Linked DNA regions of Homo sapiens. The protein of the gene in region 4 purifies or fractionates together with the protein of the main gene of each other region. This does not show direct contact. Each region holds a gene or a part of one and is shown on either strand. Other genes may lie near its edges.

What was found.
Region 1: the proteins of PIP5KL1 (region 4) and PIP5K1B purify together in Homo sapiens (affinity purification with western blotting, with the first as the bait; one study listed by BioGRID). This does not show direct contact.
Region 2: the proteins of PIP5KL1 (region 4) and PIP5K1A purify together in Homo sapiens (affinity purification with western blotting, with the first as the bait; one study listed by BioGRID). This does not show direct contact.
Region 3: the proteins of PIP5KL1 (region 4) and PIP5K1C purify together in Homo sapiens (affinity purification with western blotting, with the first as the bait; one study listed by BioGRID). This does not show direct contact.

Annotation. Positions count from the first base shown.
Region 1 is NC_000009.12:68,706,838-68,712,885, reverse strand, and holds part of PIP5K1B (phosphatidylinositol 4-phosphate 5-kinase type-1 beta), read right to left. Parts: intron 1-6,048. UniProt on the Homo sapiens protein: Catalyzes the phosphorylation of phosphatidylinositol 4-phosphate (PtdIns(4)P/PI4P) to form phosphatidylinositol 4,5-bisphosphate (PtdIns(4,5)P2/PIP2), a lipid second messenger that regulates several cellular processes such as signal transduction, vesicle trafficking, actin cytoskeleton dynamics, cell adhesion, and cell motility.
Region 2 is NC_000001.11:151,246,663-151,250,681, reverse strand, and holds the end of PIP5K1A (phosphatidylinositol 4-phosphate 5-kinase type-1 alpha), read right to left. Parts: intron 3,763-4,019; coding exon 3,717-3,762; intron 2,820-3,716; coding exon 2,817-2,819; coding exon of another isoform or gene 2,735-2,816; 3' UTR 1,151-2,734; downstream 1-1,150. UniProt on the Homo sapiens protein: Catalyzes the phosphorylation of phosphatidylinositol 4-phosphate (PtdIns(4)P/PI4P) to form phosphatidylinositol 4,5-bisphosphate (PtdIns(4,5)P2/PIP2), a lipid second messenger that regulates several cellular processes such as signal transduction, vesicle trafficking, actin cytoskeleton dynamics, cell adhesion, and cell motility.
Region 3 is NC_000019.10:3,630,871-3,635,811, reverse strand, and holds part of PIP5K1C (phosphatidylinositol 4-phosphate 5-kinase type-1 gamma), read left to right. Parts: intron 1-2,031; coding exon of another isoform or gene 2,032-2,052; exon of another isoform or gene 2,053-2,116; intron 2,117-2,291; coding exon 2,292-2,375; intron 2,376-2,642; coding exon 2,643-2,645; 3' UTR 2,646-4,941. UniProt on the Homo sapiens protein: Catalyzes the phosphorylation of phosphatidylinositol 4-phosphate (PtdIns(4)P/PI4P) to form phosphatidylinositol 4,5-bisphosphate (PtdIns(4,5)P2/PIP2), a lipid second messenger that regulates several cellular processes such as signal transduction, vesicle trafficking, actin cytoskeleton dynamics, cell adhesion, and cell motility.
Region 4 is NC_000009.12:127,927,978-127,932,229, reverse strand, and holds the start of PIP5KL1 (phosphatidylinositol 4-phosphate 5-kinase-like protein 1), read left to right. Parts: upstream 1-1,452; 5' UTR 1,453-1,477; coding exon 1,478-1,507; intron 1,508-2,344; coding exon 2,345-2,542; intron 2,543-3,746; coding exon 3,747-3,797; intron 3,798-4,010; coding exon 4,011-4,165; intron 4,166-4,252. UniProt on the Homo sapiens protein: May act as a scaffold to localize and regulate type I PI(4)P 5-kinases to specific compartments within the cell, where they generate PI(4,5)P2 for actin nucleation, signaling and scaffold protein recruitment and conversion to PI(3,4,5)P3.

The DNA.
Region 1 (6,048 bases), about 59 Mb from region 4:
CATTTAGAGCCCATTTTAACAGTGTAGCAACGTTTTGTTTTGTGCTTGATAATTTCCTCTTCTTTGTTCACTACTATTCATTTCTAAGTAAATGGAAGAAATCAGTCTTTAAATAGAGACAGTGTTTTCTTAATAATCATGCCAGAATTTATCATCTAAACAAGTGGTTTTCTCATCCTAAAGGGTTCGGTCATCATTGTAAAGGAGCTGCCATAGCTAACACGTAAGCACTGTCCTCTCAGTCTGATTCAGCTTGAGTAACCTAAATGATGGCCCACTTCATCTTGACAGGATGGATGGGGCTTATTCATGTATTCATTTAAATATTTACTGAGGACCTACCATGTGCCAAACACTAGAAAAACAGTGTTATGAACCATGGCCTCTGCCCTCAAAGAGTTTATAATCTTGGGTTGAATGTGAGTTTGGACACAGGGAAACAAGTGAAATACATAAATGAATAAGTATCCGTGTTAATCTGTTTTTGCATTGCCATAAAGGAATACCTAAGGCTGCATAATTCATAAAGAAAAGAGGTTTTATTTTGGCTCACAGTTCTGCAAGCCGTACATAAGGCACAGTGCCAGCATCTGCTTCTGGTGAGAGAGGGCCCCAGGAAGCTTACAGTCATGGCGGAAGGTGAAGGGGGAGTCCATGTAAAAGAGGGAGCAAGGGAGGGGTAGGAGATGCCACACGCTTTGAAACAACCAGATCTCATGTAAACTCATAGAGCAAGAGCTCACTCATTACCATGGGGAGTGTACTAAGCCATTCATGAGGGATCCATCCATATGACTCAAATTCTTCCCATCAGGCCCCACCTCTAGCATGGGGAATCACATTTCAACCTGAGATTTGGAAGGGACAAACGTCAAAACTGTATCAGTATCCCTGTGACAAGTGAACAAAACATATGGAGAAGGTCTCCTTTAGGTTGGAAGAACAGAAAAGTCGCCAGGAGGAGGTGATATTTAAGCTGATTAACTTAGAGAAGCTTAAAGTCCATTCTTGTCTCTGTACCCTGAACCAAACTCACTATTAAGCCACTCTGGGCATTTGAGAACTACGCTTACTGAATACTTTCAAATAAAAACAGAATATATTTAGTATTTATTTTTCTCCTAAAGAAGATAAATAATGCAAAATTATTCCTAGGCATTTTGGTTAAAAAAGTTGTAGTCTAGTGAATAAATATAATTTATGATTTAAAAAAAGGACTACTATAAACTATCAACATTAGCATCTATCAGACTGCCTAATATTTCTAAAATGGTTCGAAAAATAATAGAATCATTAGAATAATTATGGAACATCCCAAGATTTTGAAGAGTGATATTCATTTGGATATATAAATTGTTCAGTAAACACTCATTAAATCCTCACCACCTGCCAGACACAGTGCCAAGTTCCAAGAATACAAATATAAATAAAACATGATGCTTAACCTTTTCCATTGTCAAATATTTGCTGAACACCTATGATGTGCTTACTACTCCCTCAAGGAGGTCGTTGCATTGCTTTTTAATTGTTGTTGCTGTTTTGTTTCCTTACTTTATTACCAAACATATGATCAAGTGATCCAGAGAGCACAATGATGGGCATGGTTTAAAAAAGAAAGAAAAAAAGTGTATATTAAATTAAAAGCCCACTATGAAACATGTCGAATCCACTGCATGTCTTAAGTCTGTCTACGAAGCAAGGAAAGCACATTTTTATGGCTCGCTCTAATTTTATCCTCCCCCACAAACCCCTTGCTCAGCATGACTGAATGGTGAAGGCTTAAATATCACCTTTTCTCTTACAAACTGAATGAACTTTCTGCAGTCCTGTCTGAACTTTAGTTCCAATTCAAGATAATTATAATCTCTGGACCCCTAGTACTTACAATTCCAATCCTTGCCTGAACTTCCACTGAAAGACATACACACCCATTTTAAAACCAGGAGCAATACCAAACCCTCAATGCTTTATATTTCATTGCAATTTCACAATTGATTTTCTAAAAACATTAGAGAAAATGAGTCTCAAGAACTTACTGTGCATCCATCATGTAAATTACCCAAACATGTTACATATTCATTGTTTATTGAGTCCCATAAACAATACAGAAGACTTCCTACAAGAACACACACTTCATGTTGTTTATTCCAGTGCTAGTTTGTTTTAACTTAAAATGATAATACCAAGGCACTGTCAGCTTACTGAACATGCAACCTTGTCCCAATCACTCTGTTTCAAATCTTTCCAAGAGTAATCTAGTTTGGGCAGGATTCCTGTGTTTTCCTGTGTGATTATCTCCTTTATATACCTCTGATGAAGCGATACAGAAGTAAATACAATTGAGAATAGAATGTACAAAAGCAAGCCTGTTTTCCCTGACCTAATCTTATATATGAAAAGGAACCTGACTGAATACAATTCTCTGTCAATAGCAGCTGATTGTTTACGACACAGTACCCCAAAAATTTCATCATAAATTAAGTTTAAAGTTGATTTTTAAAAAGAAAAAAAATAAAACAGAAGCCTAGGTTTCCTCCCACCCCAGTTCTCTGGCACTCAGCAAAAAGTAACACATCCTGCTCTATTGATAAGACCACAAATGAACAGTAGAGCTACATAATGTACAGTTCTAACTGGCCAGCTTCTAAAAAAAAATGAAGGATTCCTTCCAACTCCCATTAATGCACTTGATACAAAGAGAACATGTTTCAGCAACAAATACATTTAGGACTTGATGTTTTACAGAATCTACTGAAGGCTCTGGCCATAGGGGGAAAAAAAAATTTCCAGGATATTAAATGTTCTGACTCACCATCTAACAGAAGTACAAGCAAAATGCAAATGCAAATTGAATGTATACATATTTATGACTTTACCAGCTGCATGACAAGGCTACCTTTGGCTTCTGGCTTTATATATCAGGAAGAGAAGTTGAGAATACCAGCATACATTTGTGTTTCTTTTCCTTTCTTTTCTGAGACAAGGCCTTGCTGTGTCACCCAGGCTAGAGTACAGTGGTGCGATCATAGCTCACTGCAACCTTGAACTCCTAGGCTCCAGTGATCCTCTCACTTCAGCCTCCCAAGTAGCTGGGACCACAGGCACGTGCCACCATACCCAGCTAATTTTTTATTTTTGCATAGATGGGGTCTTGCTATGTTGCCCAGGCTGGTCTCAAACTCCTGGGCTCAAGTGATTCGCCCACCTCGGCCTCCCATGGGATTACAGGTCTTTGGTTTCTATTTGAACAGTTTCCTCTCTCCCAGCACTGATTGGAGCAAAGTATTATTTCTGAGTCTGGTGATGCACATAAGCCAGAAGAATCATAGTGAATAGATAAAAACAAACATTTTGGCCGAGCACAGGGTCTCACACCTGTAATCCCAGCACTGTGGGAAGCCGATGCCTGTGGATTGCTTGAATCCACGAGTTACAGACCAGCCTAGGCAACATGGTGCAACCCTGTCTCTGCCAAAAATACAAAAATTAGCCAGGCATGGTAGTGCGTGCCTGTTGTTGCAGCTACTCAGGAAGTTGAGGTGGGAGGATTACCTGAGCCTGGGGAGGTTGAGGCTGGAGTTGGGCCACTGCACTCCAGCCTGGGAAACAGAATGAGACCTTGACTCAAAAAACAAAAAAAAAGTAAAGAGAAAAAAACATGTTATTTTTAATGGCATCTGCTTGGGCAAGAAAACTTAAACATATAAATGCTAAACCATTTTCAAATGTACTAACTCTCTAATAATGATAGTAAACAGAAGTTTTCTGTTAATCTCTATGATTTCTAAAAGTCAAAACTGTACCTTCACCATAGAACTCCTGGGACAAACTCAAATATGAACCTTCTTAAGAATTCCACATTGATCTTGGTCCTCCTGCTATCATCTTTGTGACCATAAGTAAGTCAATTCACCTAAGTTTTAGTTTTCTTACCCATAAACGGTACTTCTAAACTAATTAATATTTAAATTCTTTATCAGAAGGAAACATACATCAATCCCCAATGTAAATTGCAGATCCATTAATAATATTTAAGATCACTATATTCTTTCTTATCATTCTTCCAAACATAAAAACACTACTTGTCTGTATATAAAGAGGAGGAGTAGAAAGAGAAGATTGTTAAAAGGAACAGAAACTAGGTTGGTTTTGTTAACTAGGTTCCCCCTCTGAAACCACGAGACAGTATTAGCATCTCCTGAAATTTATTCAATACCCTGTTTTAAAAACAGAATGGTTGGTTTCCCCATGTCAAGACATACCCTTTCATAAAATGGGACAAGTCAATTTCTAGGAATGTATCTTTCAGCAGCTGTAATACTAACAACTAAAGGGGCGGGGGGGCGGCAAACAAAAGAGCATAACATAGATGACATGAGTCTACTGTCTAGGGAGAAAGAAAAGCTCTTCCCTATATGATGCCTTCAGAAAAGAGAGCAACAATGGGCTCTGTACCCGCCAGCTTCAGGAGGCACATGCCTGTAGGCAAATTATCTTATGTGTTGGGAATTTACATGGTAAGATGCTTTCTATGTTTTACAGCATATGTTTTCCTTATGAATGACTTCATTCACCCCCTTCATTAATTCAACAGCTATTTACTGAGCACTTACTTTATGCAAACCATAAAGCTAAAAAAAAAAAGTTATGAGCTTACAATTAGAATATTCAAGTAAGCCCTGACATGTACCTTACAGTACTTTAACCCCTCAGAATATTTTCAAGTCAAACAGTAAACTAAACAATATACTGTAGATGTTAAGCTAAAACGCACTTGTTAAGTTTCATTCCTTTGATGAAGTGGCATGTAGTAAAGGGGGGAAGGGATAAACTAAAGGTGAAAGAGTAATTAGCTAGGTCTCTTAGGTGATGTGGGGTACAAAGGTCTCCTTCCTCTAGAGAAAATGATAACATTGGATTACAAACACATTGGTAAACATCACAAAATGCTAAAGTTGGAAAGAAAAAACATAATTTCATACAAACGTTTTGTTTTATATGTGAGACACTTGAGACTTGGAAGTGATATGATGGCCCAGGTCATACGGCCAAATGTAGTCCCAGAACTAGAACCCAGGTCACTGGGGGCATGCTTAACAGTCCTTTGTGTATTGCAGTTTCCATGATGTGTCCTCATTGCTATCAGAACTGAAATGATGGCAGAATACACAAAGCAATGGACTGGACATCAGAAGATCCAAGTTCTAGTCTTGCAAATGCCACTAAATGAGATGTAAATCCATGGAAAACTCCCACTGCTTGTCTAAACCTCAGTTTCCTCATCTGTAAAATGTAAACAGTAATTTACAGTGAGACTATGCAGACCACAATAAATGCAGAAGAACTCTGCCATTTAAAAAACCACCTTATATAAGTACAGAGCAGGCACCTGGTTATGACAGAAAACCTAACTGTGATTCTAATACCAGCACTTGTTACCTTGATAAATCTCTGAATCTGTGAGCCTCATGTTCCTTCTGTGTTTACATGGTAAAAAGTCTTTGCCCTGCCTCCCTCAGAAATGTTTGGAATTAGGTGAGAACACTCAAAAGAATTTACAAATTGCAAGACACTGATGCAAATGTAAGGTGTTATTATTAAATCTCTCTAGTCTTAACGTGGACAAAAATGTAATGTGGTTCTATCATTTAGTGCTTCACAGTTTTCCTTCTCAGGTAAGATGTCATCATACATCAGTCTCAAACTCACCAGCTTTCTCATCAGTCCTCATAAGTCTCTGCCCACAGGACCATATCAGAACCACCGTTTCCCTCCGCTCAGAGATCACACATGAAACTCACTCAACCTCCCACTGGTTTACACTTGGCCGATTAAGGTTTTTTCCCAGCGTCTCCTTTCAGCTGGGAATGCTCTAGCAAAGCTTCCATGAACACTACCCTACTTCATCACATTAGAGTCCTAATGAAACCCATCCTTACTTCATCACATTAGAGTCCTAATGAAACCAATCCTTTCGCCTTTCTCCACTCCAACAGCTGCAGAACGCTTCAGTCTCTTCGCAGAACAGGGGAGAAGTCTCTGGCTGAA
Region 2 (4,019 bases), on a different chromosome or scaffold from region 4:
TCAAAAACAGACCATTCTCATGCATCTAGGTCCTTGTGCTGAAGTGAAACATTCTCTTAACACTTCTTTCGCACGTAACTGCTAATTTTTCCCCCTTTTATGTTCTGTGCCACCTTCAGAGAGCTTAAGTAGCTGTCTCACATATAACATATTGTTTTTGTGATTTGTGTTCCTCCTGGAAACTAGAAACTTTTGAAGGACAATTATTTCTTTGATCTCCATCTACTCCATGCATTGCTCATTAGCTGCTATATAAATATTTGGAGTGCCCTTAACAAGATAGGGAATAGTGGTATGAAAAGCAGCTGTTTGCTTAACTGCTTCTCTCCAAAGGTTCCCTATCTTCATGCCTCAGAATGAACCTCACCGCTCCTTTTTTTTTTTTTTTTTTTTAGACAGTCTCAGTCGCCTAGGCTGGAGTGCACTGGCGCAATCTTCGCTCACTGCAACCTCTGCTTCCCAGGTTCAAGCAATTCTCCAGCCTTGACCTCCAAAGTAGCTGGGACTACAGGCGCATGCCACCATCCCCTGCTAATTTTCAATAAACGGGGTTTTGCCATGTTGGCTGGGCTGGTCTCGAACTCCTGACCTCAGGTGATCCACCTGCCTCCACCTCCCAAAGTGCTGGGATTACAGGTGTGAGCCACCGCGCCTGGCCCGCCCCTACTTTTTTGTCTAGTTTCCTATCAAAGGAGCCTTAGCTCAACCTCACAAAAGAAAACAGCTAAAGAAAGCAATCTCTATGATCTTCTAAGAGTGACGCCCTAGGGCCAGGTCAAGAGAACGAAAGGGAGGGAATCACTAGGGCCAGCTAACCTCAAACTTACTTTTCCCACTGTCCCTCTCCTTTCCTCACTTAACTGAGTAAAGTGAGTTTTGAACCTCAAATCCCTGTTAAATTGGGTTGCAACCTAGGCAAGAGACCTACAGTAACTCCCCTCATATTCATTCACTGCTTTTCCTCGTGAAGATAATGGGGTTGCTGAGGAAGAGGATATAAGGACATAAAGCCTTAAGAGTGAAGCTGGAGTGTTGCAAGCTGGAAAGTATGCAGCCTTTGTTTAGGGCAACATGAACAAAACTGAGCCTGGGTGGTGGAGTAGGAGGGTGAGCAGATGGTATATGAAAAAGAATCAGAAAAAATAAGAGGTCTAAATAACTCATTAAAGTTTATTACATTAAAACCATATATCACTTTTATATTGTATTTGCCATTTCTGAACAATACAAAGTAGAGGCAAATAGTAACACTTAATAAAAATGTTGCTTCCCCATTCCTTTCCCTAAGACCCAGCCCTCCCTCAAATATTCCCTCCCACCCCTAACAGAACTCTGTCCTTAATAAAACACTTAAATACATCATAAATAGTAAATTATGAAAAAAAAATAGCAAGAATTCTTTCCTTCTTGTAAAAAACATGGCAGCAAAGACAGGCAGCCAGAAACTGGCTGGGGGTGTCTAATATAGACAGTTATTTGGGGTATGGGCTAACATATTATCAAGGCAGGGTGGGATAGAGAAGGGATAGAACAGGAATTCAACAATCTGCCTGAGATACCAGGCCCCCTTCTTCCCCTGACAAGAGTGGAAGGATCAGATGGAAAACCACAACTCTTGTAGACGGGGAGGAGAGGGCATATGTAGCCCCCATTTCCAACTTCCCTGCATGAAGACAGGGGGGTAGGACATATGGCACAGCAATGACCTCACCAAGGCAAGAATCTGCTGTCTCCCCATGAGTTTAAGAAAATATTTGCTGGCCTCACAGATATGGACTGTCTGTTAAACAGACAGAAGTGTCCCCTCTTTACCTTAGCTCCACAAACAGGAGAACACTGTTGGAAAAGATGAGAAGAGCAAAAAAAATCTCCTCTGGAGAATGATCTAAAATTCATTTGGTAAGTCTTCACATTTAGAAAAACAACCAGAATATATTTCAAATTGCAAAATAGTAATAATTACTATAGCCTGGCAGTGAACAGGATTCTGCCTAGGAAGGGCTATGATCTCCCAGCCCATGGCTGCCTCCTGTTTTAACAAAAGGGATAAAGATTACCCCATGTCCCACTCTCTTCATTCCTTCAGCCTTAAGAAATTCATCAAGAGAGGAGGAGTTTAAAGAGGAGCTGCTTCTGGCAGAGCAATCACTACTCTTCTCTTCATAAACACCATGGCTCTTCTGAGGGAACTCTACGAATAGGCATCTTGTCAACACTTCTGGAGTTCTGATCTGAAAATGGCTTGAAATTGTGTGCTGTGTGCTTTTTCCTTTTTTCAGAAAAAAAAAAAGAAGAAGAAAGCTGGGAGGTGGTTAAACACCCTTATCCCCCAAAAACCTTTACAGAGATTACAGGAGTATTCTTCCAGGAGTCAGAGAGAAAGAACTAAGGTAGGGATAATGTGCCAGCTAGTCTGTCCTGAGGAAATTAAGAGTCCGGTTCCTAGTCAAAGACGAGGGGAAAGAAAGCTGCCAAGTCCAGCAATCCCATTTCCAGCATGAAGAATGGGGGTCTGAAAAAAATTCAATAGTGGAGGCAAAGGGTTGGCCAGTTGAAAATCCATACCACCCAACTCTGGAGTGGAGGGGATGCTGCGGTCCTCAACTCTCTGAGGCACTAAGGCCCATTCATGAGGAAGAGGAAGGAGAGAAGGTTCTTCTTCAGGAAGAAGATGGAGGAGCAGCTCCCCTCACTTCTATTACACTCCTTTTTTGATGACCAAGTAGAAGAAAATTCAGCATTGCTGGGGCAAGGGCTGACATCTTGGGATCACAGAGATGGCAGAATCTTGTTCCAGGTCTTCTGAGGCTTTGCGCTTACTGAAAAGGGAGAGTGTAAAGTTAAGGATGTGGAGTATGAGATTAAGCAGAAATGGAATTCAAGCGTTAAGAAATTTCTATTTCAGCCTCAGCCTCCAAGTATGAGGTACCAAAAATATTTTTTAAAAAACAAGATGGCGGCCGCGCATGGTGGCTCACACCTGTAATCCCAGCACTTTGGGAGGCCCAGGCAGGTGGATCACGAGGTCAGGAGATCGAGGCCATCCTGGCTAACACGGTGAAACCCTGCTCTACTAAAAATACAAAAAATTAGCCGGGCATGGTGGTGGGCGCCTGTAGTCCCAACTACTCAAGGGGCTGAGGCAGCAGAATGGCGTGAACCTGGGAGGCGTAGCTTGCAGTGAGCCGAGATCGCGCCACTGCACTCCAGCCTGGGTGACAGAGCAAGACTCCGTCTCAAAAACACAAACACGATGGCTGGGTGCAATGGCTCACGGCTGTAATCCCAGCACTTTGAGAGGCCAAGGTGGGCAGATCACGACGTCAGGAGTTCAAGACCAGCCTGTCCAATATGATGAAACCCTGCGCCTACTAAAAAATAAAAAATTAGCCGGGCGTGGTGGCACGCACCTGTAGTCCCAGCTACTCCAGAGGCTGAGACAGGAGAACTGCTTGAACCCAGGAGGCAGAGGTTGCAGGTGAGCTGAGATTGCACCACTGCACTCCAGCCTGGGCAACAGAGTGAGACGCCATCTCAAAAATAAATAAATAAATAAATAAATAAGTACAAAATAAAAAAATAATAAAAAATAAAAAACAAGATTTAGGAGGTACCCAGATCCTCTAATCTTGACAATTAACTTCCTGCTCCAGGCCATCAGTGATCCTCTTTATACCTTGCAAAACGTTCACCTCCCACACATCCCAGATACTCACATGGGTGAACTCTGACTCTGCAACTTCAAGCTTTTCCAAGGTTGTACTAACAGGAGAAAAAAAATGGAAGCAGAGAGAAAAAGAATTAGAAGACAACAACAAAGGACTCTCCTTTTAAATCTCATACTGCTTCTCTAATTTTCACTTTGGAATCAATTTAGAATTTGGAAAGAAGAGGCTGAGAAGCTACTAGATTTAGAAGCACACTGTTTTAATTAACCATATTTAGCTTCTTGAATACTATAAAATATTTCCCAGTACCCTGCCCTCTTCTGTTTCAATCTCCAGGTGTCGTAGGTACCC
Region 3 (4,941 bases), on a different chromosome or scaffold from region 4:
GAGACGAGGTTTCACCGTGTTCACCAGGATGGTCTCAATCTCCTGACCTCGTGATCTGCCCGCCTCAGCCTCCCAAAGTGCTGGGATTACAGGCGTAAGCCACCGCGCCCAGCCTTGTTTGTTTTTTTTGAGATGGAGTCTCACTCTGTCACCCAGGCTGGAATGCAGTGGCTCAATTTCAGCTCACTGCAACCTCTGGCCTGGGTTCAAGCGATTCTTCTGCCTCAGCCTCCCGAGTTGCTGGGATTACAGGCTCCTGCCACCATGCCCCAATAATTTTTTGTATTTTTAGTAAGAGATGGGGTTTTACCATGTTGGCCAGGCTGGTCTCGAACTCCTGACCTCAGGTATCTGCCCACCTCGGCCTCCCAAAGTTCTGGGATTACAGGCGTGAGCCACCACGCCCGGCCTTAATCTTTGTATTTTTAGTAGAGATAGGGTTTCGCCATATTGGCCAGGCTGGTCTTGAACTCCTGACCTCAAGTGATCCACCTGCCTTGGCCTCCCAAAGTGCTGGGATGACAGGCGTGAGCTCCTGCACCTGGCCTGTATCCCCGTTTCTAATGCTGTAGCAGAAGGATACTGTCATCCCTGCCCACGTGCTGTGTGTGCCCGGGATGCCCCTCCCAGAGAGCGGCTCTGAGGTGGCTGCTGCCACCCTCCTCCCTGCGGGCCAGTTCTTTCAGGGCTCAGGTGGGGACCCTGTTTTGGCCCCACATTTTCAAGTCCCCATGGGATCCATCAGTGCAGCCACCAAATCAGTACTGAGCACCCACATAGGCTCCCCATGCCGGGCTCTCAAGGGACGTTGGGTGGACCTGACCTGCCATTCCCACGTCAGGGATTCCAGGCTGCATTTGCTACCCTGGAGGAACAGGCAAGGCCTGCGCTGGGGTCCTGGCCCCTCAGTGCAGGAGTCAGTCCTCCGCGATGCGGCCTCGCAGGGCAGGAGTGCGCTGCCCTCGGTGCCCAGGGCCCGGGAACAGGGGTCTTGTGGAAGCTGTAGGATCGGGCAGGGTGGAGTGAGCACAGAGGTGGGCCCTTTAGAGGGAGCATGGAGGCAGAGCCCGAGGCAGGGAGAGGCAGTGCTCCTGCAGGTGAGGTCTGGGCTCACCTGGAGCACAAGGGAGGCCCCTGCTGGCCCAGGCTGGGCAACTGGGAGCTGGCAGAGGCATGGGTTGGCCTGGGCAGCAGGTGGGCAGCGTCATCCTGACTGGAAGGACGAGCAGTGGGTCTTGGGGTGATGGACTGGGTTGTGACTGTGGCGAGTTTAGGGGCCGAGGGCCGCCAGGTGGACGTGGCCAGGCAGGTGTGTATTCAGGCCTGGCACTTCAGGCCGAGGCCAGGCCTGGTGGAAATTCGCAGGTCATCTGTGCCGGGAGGGGCGTTGAAGGCTGGGTTGGTGACAGAGGCCCGAGAGAGAGGAGGACACAACAAGGAAGACAGGGCGGCCAGGCTGGAGCCCTGAGAAAGCAGAGCAGCCTAGGGGCAGGAGAAGCAGGGGGAGCTTGAGGGGGTGGGGGCTCCTCAGGAGGCGGGACGGAGGTGTTGGAGGAACGCACCCTCCCTCCCTCCCCAGATCCCACCCAGACCTGGGACCCCTCACGCAGGCACAGCTGGGAAGAGCTGTCCGTGTCCCTGCACACGGCCCTGCCTGTGCCTAGCCCTGAACTTGGCCCTCACTCTGCCCTGCTGCTCAGGAAGGCGTCTCCTGGCTCTTGCAGGGTGGGTGGTCCGAGCCTCAGTCTCTCCTAGCACGTCTGTGCTGGCAGAGGGGACTGGCCCTGCCCGCAGGCAGCCATATATTCAGGTCCCAAAAGGCTTCTGGGTTGGGAAGTAGGTCCGGCACCCCGACCTCCCAGGACCCCCATAGAGAGCTTCCAGGAGCCTGTGCGCTGGTGCCCGTGGCACAGGCAGGATTGGGGGCTGTGGTGGGGCCGGGCTGTGGAGGAGGAGGAGGAGGAGGAACACTCGGTGCTCCAGGTCGCGACCCCCACCCGCTTCCGCCGGCTCTGTCACCTGCTATCTCAGGCCCTGCCTCGACTGAACTAACTGCTTTCTGCCGCCCGCCGTGCCCCGCCCCGCCAAGCTGAGCTGAGGCCCCAGGCCCGTCCAGGTTGGGAGCAAGTCCACCGGGTCAGAGAGGGCAGCTGGGCTGAGCCACCCCTCGTCTTCCATGGGGGATTCGCCTCTTTTATGTTCTCCTGTCTCTTCCTTCCTCCCTCTGCCTCTCTTGCACCTCCTCGCACCCTGCTCTTCCGCGCCCTCCTGCACGCGCGCCCACCTGCCAGCCCACCGATGAGAGGAGCTGGGTGTACTCCCCGCTCCACTATAGCGCCCAGGCCCCCCCGGCCTCCGACGGCGAGAGCGACACAGTAAGTGCAGCCCAGGTGCACCCGCCGGTCCCGTGGGCTCCAAGGTTCTACTGAGCGTGGTCCCCAGCTACTGGGATAGGCAGGGACTGAGGCCCGGGGCGGGAGGGCACAGGTGGCCCAGAGCTCCACCCTGGGCTCTCTGGCTCTGAGGTGGCCGTGGGCTAAGTGTCTCAGGGCCTGTGTTGGCCCAAGGAAGCCAGTCCCTGGCAGGGGGCCTGGGGTGGGCCCTCGCCCCGCCCACCTTCACCTGTCCTCTTGCTCTTGCAGTAATTTCTATGCAGCCCCCGACCCAGAGCCGAGCTCCACTTCTGCTCCGGCTGCCCCCGAAGGCGCTGCCCACCCCGCTGAGGCCCAGAGCTCGGGAGATGCCCGCCTCGCCGCCCCACCGGACCTCGTCCTCCCCCTGCACGGATGCCGACGGCCGGGCCCCTCCCCGACAAGCCTCCCAGGGCCCCGGCACCCCGGTCGGCAGCCTGCCCCTGTGAGACCCACCCTCCCGAGCGGCCAATCGCATTTGAGTCCTTATTTGGCACAGAGACGGAAGCACGTGTGTGCCGTTTTAGGAAAAGAACAAAAAAGACACAAACAAACCAACCAGAGGGAGAAGAGCCCCTGCCCACTGCACTCTTTGGTTCTCTGCTGTGCCTGCCTGTGTCCTGAGGAAGAAGCCAGGCTGTTCGCGGTGGCCTCTGGGGACCTGAGCCCCGGGGGCCCCATCGGCCTGCAGAGGGGACGGCTGGGGTCCCGAGCAACTCTGCCTCCATCCACGTGGGAAGCGGACCCTCCTGCCCTCAGCTTGGGTTTGGGGGCCTCAGTGCAGGACATCTGGCCTGAACATCGACTGTGGGGACAGCCCTCGCCCTGCCAAGCACTGCGGCCACTCAGCAGCTATGTTCCCGCCGCAGTGGGGCCCTGACGCCCACCTCCCAGGTGCCCCTCGAGCAAAAACCTCTGGCGCCTCCAATCCAGACCCACCACAGCTGGAGGGCCAGGCCTCCTCTTCCCCAGGCTGCCACCCACGCTGGCGGAGCTCAGGGCTGGGGACTTGTCCTTCTCTTCCAACGTAGGCCACTCAGCAACTGGCATGGAGGGCCCAGGCAACGGAGACGTTTTCTCCATGGCAGGACAGAGCGGGAGGCCGGGCCTTGGGCCACAGGAGACCAGCTCAGGGCGGAAGGTCAGGCTCCCCGCCCCCTCCACGTGGAGACATGGCCTAGGGGGCCAGGCCCGGCTCCACAGGAGTCTCCTTCAGGACTGGTGTGGATGTCCGCCGCCTCTTTCTTGTTTAAGTGATGTGATGTCTCCGAGGAGGGGAGAGAAGACTTTGTTTCCGACTCATCACCCTCCAAGAGGGCAGCGCTCCCAGTGGTGGGACTCAGCCCAGACTGCCCTGGGGCAGCTTCCTGGGCCCGCTGCGCTCAGAGGGTGCTGGTTGGAGGCCAGAGCTCGGCAGAGTCACCCACCCTGCCCTTCCCCAGGACCCCTGAGAGGGGCTTATTGGTGATGGCTGTGGGAATCCCCCACTTCCAAGATGTGCCCAGGATGTGAGGAGCTGGAGTGGAAGCTGCACCTTTGGGAAGAATTCCTCTCCAGACCTGGCAGAGCCTGGTGTGGGGTCTGAGACGGCCGGAGAACCTCCCAGGCAGGGCTCTGTGTTTTGTCTGTTACAACCTCCGTATGACGCCACGCCACCCGCTGTTCACGTCCCGTCGGCCTCCTGCACAGCCCACACGCTGCGCCCGGAAGGCCCCTGCTGTGGAGAAGCCGGACCCATCCCCGAGGTCCCCAGCGAGGACACACACTCCACGAGAGCAGCCCCTCCACTCTGCCCAGGAGAGGGGCCGACCCTCCTCGGGAACCGGCCAGCCGCGTGGCTCCCAGCATCCATCAGGACAAGCCCACGTGGGGTCCTCCCTGCGTGCTCAGAGGGTCTGTCCAGCCCTGGGAAGCGACCTTGGCCTCAGTTCACAGCCTGGTGCTCATCTGCTGGCACCGGGCATCCACCCATCAGCCCCCGCCCTGTCCCTCCGAAGGACACCCAGCAGGCACCCCCCGGGGAGGCAGGGGCAGAGGTCAGAAGGGGTGTCTGGGACCTGGATGGCCAGCAGGGACAGGGGCATTGTCATCTCAAAGGCCCAACCCCCAGAGGCCACACCAGTCCTCCCAGGGAGTCCTCGAGTCGCCCTGCCCAGAGCCCTGGCACCAGAGACGCCAAGAGCCTGTGGGGTGACTCGGAGCAGCAGGTGTGGCCCCGGGCGGGCGGCACCGCGTCCAGGGCAGCCTCCCTCCGCTGAGTGACACGGGACACCAGTGCCCGGCCGACGCGCCTTTGCAGGAGAAATGTGCAAACCTCTGTGGATACCATTTCATTTCCATTCTTGTGTTGTCTCCAAGGCCCTTTTGGAGATATACTTGGTGTTGGTTGTGTTTTTTGGTTCCTTTTCAGAGAACTGTAAACCGAGGCTGACGTGCTCCACTGACTGTGCCGAGGGGCGGGGGCAGGAGGACGGCAAGACCTATTTATAATATTTAGCGAACTCGGTCTCCCTCAGATCCCCCGCGAGGG
Region 4 (4,252 bases):
TAGCCCCAGCTACTCAGGAGGCTGAGGCAGAGGAATCTCTTGAACCTAGGAGGCGGAGGTTGCAGTTAGCTAAGACCGCGCTACTGCACTCCAGCCTGGGCGACAGAGCAAGACTCTGTCTCAGAAAAAAAGAAAAAAAAAATTAGCTGGGCATGGTGACGCCTGCCTATAATCCCAGCTACTTGGGAGGCTGAGGCATGAGAATCACTTGAACCCAGAGGCAGAGGTTGCAGTGAGCCGAGATTGCGCCATTGCACTCCAGCGTGGGCCACAGAGGGAGATTCTGTCTTAAAACAAACAAACAAAACCCTCGAACCTTGGTGCCTCACACACACACCCATACTCACAGTACCTCTCTGGGTCCCCACAGGGCCCTGCCTCTCAGCCTGCTTTCCCCTCTTCACTCCAGCCACTCTGGCCTTTCACTTCCTGGACTCACCAAGGCCCTTTGCACGTCCTACTCGCTTGGTCCCATAGACACTCATCCGGCACAGGCTTGTGCCAGGCACTCAGCCAGGAGGCAGGAATGACATGGCCCCGCTTTCATGGCATTCCCACTCCAGGGGGAGACGTGATAAACAATAAACAAGACAGTCTCTGACAGTGTTAGGGTGGTAAAGAAAATAAAGGTGATGTGATCAGGAGTGGGGGGAGGGGAGCGCTCTGTTGGAGTCTGGCAAGGTGACGAAAGAACGAGGCGAGTAGCAGTCTGGGGTCAAGAGTTTCAAGCAGAGGGAATAGCAAAATGCAGAGGCTTGAATGGGAGAGTTTGGCGGCTAAGGAACAGGAGGGGCCGGGCGGCTCAGTGGTTAAGTGTAGGGTGAGTGGTTTGAGATGGGCCTGGGGTCAGGGTGAGGGGTTTGGGTTTTGTTCCATTGCCATGGGAGCCACTGGAGGCTTTAAGCACGAGAGTGACATCATCCAAGTTATGCTTTTAAAGATCACGCGGGCAGCTGAGCCCCTCCCTCTCGCTCACCACTAAATCCCCAGGGCCTAGCACTGCTGGCCCACAGTGGGTGTTCAATATCTATGTGTTCAATGAATGGATGTCCCCGACTTTGCTGTGTGACCTAGAGGTAGTGACTTCTTTCTCTAGATCTCTCAGTTTTTTCACCCAAAAGACGGGCAATGGGGATTTCACGCCGGAATGGGTGGGTGGCACAGGATTTAGGTTACTCGCCTCCCCAGGCGGCCCTAGCGACCCGAGTCCCCACGCCGAGGGCGGAAAATGGGGGTGCTCCCTTCGAGGGACCCCAGCCAATGTCCGGCGGCCCCGCCCCAGCCGGACCGAGGTCTGAAGGATGCTGCAGCCGTGGGGGCGGGACCCGCAGGCGATCGCCAGCGCCTCCCGCGTGGATTGGATGCAGCCGCAGTCGGCGCCATGCTATTGGTCGGCCGCGAGGTAGGGGCGGGGCCTGATTCCTGCAGCGGGGCGGCGGGGAATGCGGCCAAAGCCCGGGAAGCTGCTGCGGGGGCGATGGCTGCGCCGAGCCCGGGGCCCCGCGAGGTAGGTGCGGACCCGAGAGAGGACAGGAGAGGGAAGGGTTGGTGGGCAGGGGCCGGGCCTCCCCTCGGCGAGCGGCGCGGACACGCCCCCATCCAAGCCTGGGAGGGGCCCTGCAGCCGGCGAAGACCAGGACACGCCCCACACGGGGCGCCAGGTATCCCGAGGGGCGGCCTGGCGGATATCCCTCAACACTTCCTCAGCTTTCTCATTGGGAAAATGGAGAGGATGCTAAAGCTCCTCCTTCAGGGAGCTGTTAGGAGGTCAAGCTCTCATCCAGTGCGGGGCACGCGGTGGATGCCCACTACTGGTGGGTCAGCGGCTATGAAAAGCATCGTGCTGGCCCCTCCGTGCTGGCCTGGAGGCGCTCAGCATAGGCGAATGGAATAGATGTGACTGAATCACCGGCATCACAGCTCCTACTATCAAGGGCTCCCGTGCAAGGAGCTCAAACTCAAAAGTAACAAGAGTTCATACCTACCACGAAGAAGCTGTTCTAGTTTTCACGTTGCAGATGAAAAAATGAGGCACAGAAAGGTTAGGTGACTTACCTAAGGTCACAAGGTTGGTGAGAGACGGTCCATCTAAGGCCAGGTTTGACTGCAGAGTGCACGCCCTATCTACTGATAATCATAACCATTGCTCTATTCGGGTGCTGACTGCGTGCCAGGCACTGTGTGGCCCCTCTGGGTACCAGCATCATCTCTATTTTACAGCTGAAGAAATTGAGGCAGAGAGAGATGAGGGGAAGTCTCACAAGTAGTGGAAGTGGGACTTGAACCCTGATCTTTTTCCTCTGTGACGCTGCCACAGGCTGTGTCCTGTGCCTCCTCCCACCAGGTCCTGGCCCCCTCCCCTGAGGCTGGATGCAGAGCAGTCACCTCCAGCCGGCGGGGGCTTCTCTGGCGCCTCCGAGACAAGCAGTCTCGCCTGGGCCTGTTTGAGATCAGCCCGGGGCATGAACTGCATGGGATGACGTGCATGATGCAGGCAGGGCTGTGGGCTGCCACCCAGGTCTCCATGGACCACCCACCCACGGTGAGTGGCCCATCTGTCCCACGAATCTCCACACCAGCAATGGCAAGACTTGGCTGATGCCCTGTCTGGCTGAAACTGCAGGTGTGGGGATCAGAGAGGGATATCAAGGGGAGGAAGGCAGAGAGGGAGGAACATTGTGGTGTGGGAGCTGGAACGTCTGGGGTGCGTTGGGGGTGTGAGGAACCCCCTGACTCAGGTGGTTGCTGTGTGACTCTAGGTGGGTCTCTGCCTCTCTCTGGGCCTCAGTGTCCCCATCTGTATAATGGGGGGAGATTATACTCCTTGGTTTCTGAGGCCCTCCCAGCCCTGCCAGGGTATATGGTTGAAAAGGGACCCCCACCCCCACCCTGCTGGCCTAGCCCATCCTCTCTGGAGCTCAGGCTGAGGCAGGGCTGGCTCAGCAGAAAGGTGGCCCAACTGCAAGCTCAGCAGCTGGGCGGGCCTGGGTGAGCATGTGTGTGGTGTTCGTGTGTGTGCATGTGTGCGCAGTGGGACCACATTCCACAGACCACATCCGGGCACAGGGACCTGGAGATCCAGGGAAAGTGTAGAGACTCGAGGGAGTTCTCTAAATCACAAACTGACCTCATCACCTGCTGAAAAGCTTCCATGGCTCCCCAATACTCAGCATGACCTCCAGATCCAGCTGCATCCAGCCTTGTTCACACTCCATCCCTCCCTCACTGGCTTCAGCCACTTGGGCCCTCCTTCCCTTGCCGGCAGCCACCAGTGCTGTTTCTACTGGTGCGAGCACCCTGCTCCTCCTCTCCACTACCCTTTAGATTTCAGCTTAGAGGTCTCCACCCCCAGGAAGGCTTCTCTGATTTTGCCCCTCCCAGGTTGCATCAGGCAGGTCCCTTGGCTTCAGGGCCACCCCCTTGTACTGGACAGAATCTGGCTTCACTTGGCCAGCCTGTGAGTCTGGGAACGTGCCTGGCTTGAACTCATGGCCTGGTGCTGGTGATCCAGAGTGGATGAGATACACTCAGGCCTTGCCGTGGGTCACTCTTGTCCCCCTGGCATCCCTGGGAGGTGAGCAATGCATCTGCCCAACTCAGGCACTCTCAGAAACTCCGGTCCCGGTTTGCTGAAGGAATCCAATTGGAGGAGGTGGGGGACGGGCCAGGTGCAGGACATCTGGAGATCCTGGGGCAGGCAGCAGGGGACTGAGGGTTGCCCTGAGCTCCTCTACCTCTCCCTGCAGGGGCCGCCCTCCCGGGACGATTTCTCGGAGGTCCTAACCCAGGTTCACGAGGTAGGAGGCCCAGACTCCCGTGTGGGAGGGACGTGTGCTGGTCTTGCTCTCTCCTCTGCAGTTTTCCCATCTGTGCAGTGGGAGTGAAGGCTTGTCCCTGAGACTTGAGCCTTGCAGGAAGGGTGTGGTCACCCTGACCCTCCTGTCCCAGGACCAACTGCACACACCCGGGCCCACGCAGACACTCCAGAGGAGGCTCTTCCTCCCCTGCAGGGCTTCGAGCTGGGCACGCTGGCCGGCCCCGCCTTTGCCTGGCTGCGCCGCTCCCTGGGCCTGGCGGAGGAGGACTATCAGGCTGCCCTGGGCCCCGGCGGCCCCTACCTGCAGTTCCTCAGCACCTCCAAGAGCAAGGCCAGCTTCTTCCTGTCGTGAGCTTGCGGCAGGGGTGGGGCAGGGGTGGGAGTGGTACCCCTGGCTGGGAGGGCAGAATTCCCAGTGGCGGGGAAGGCCCCCTG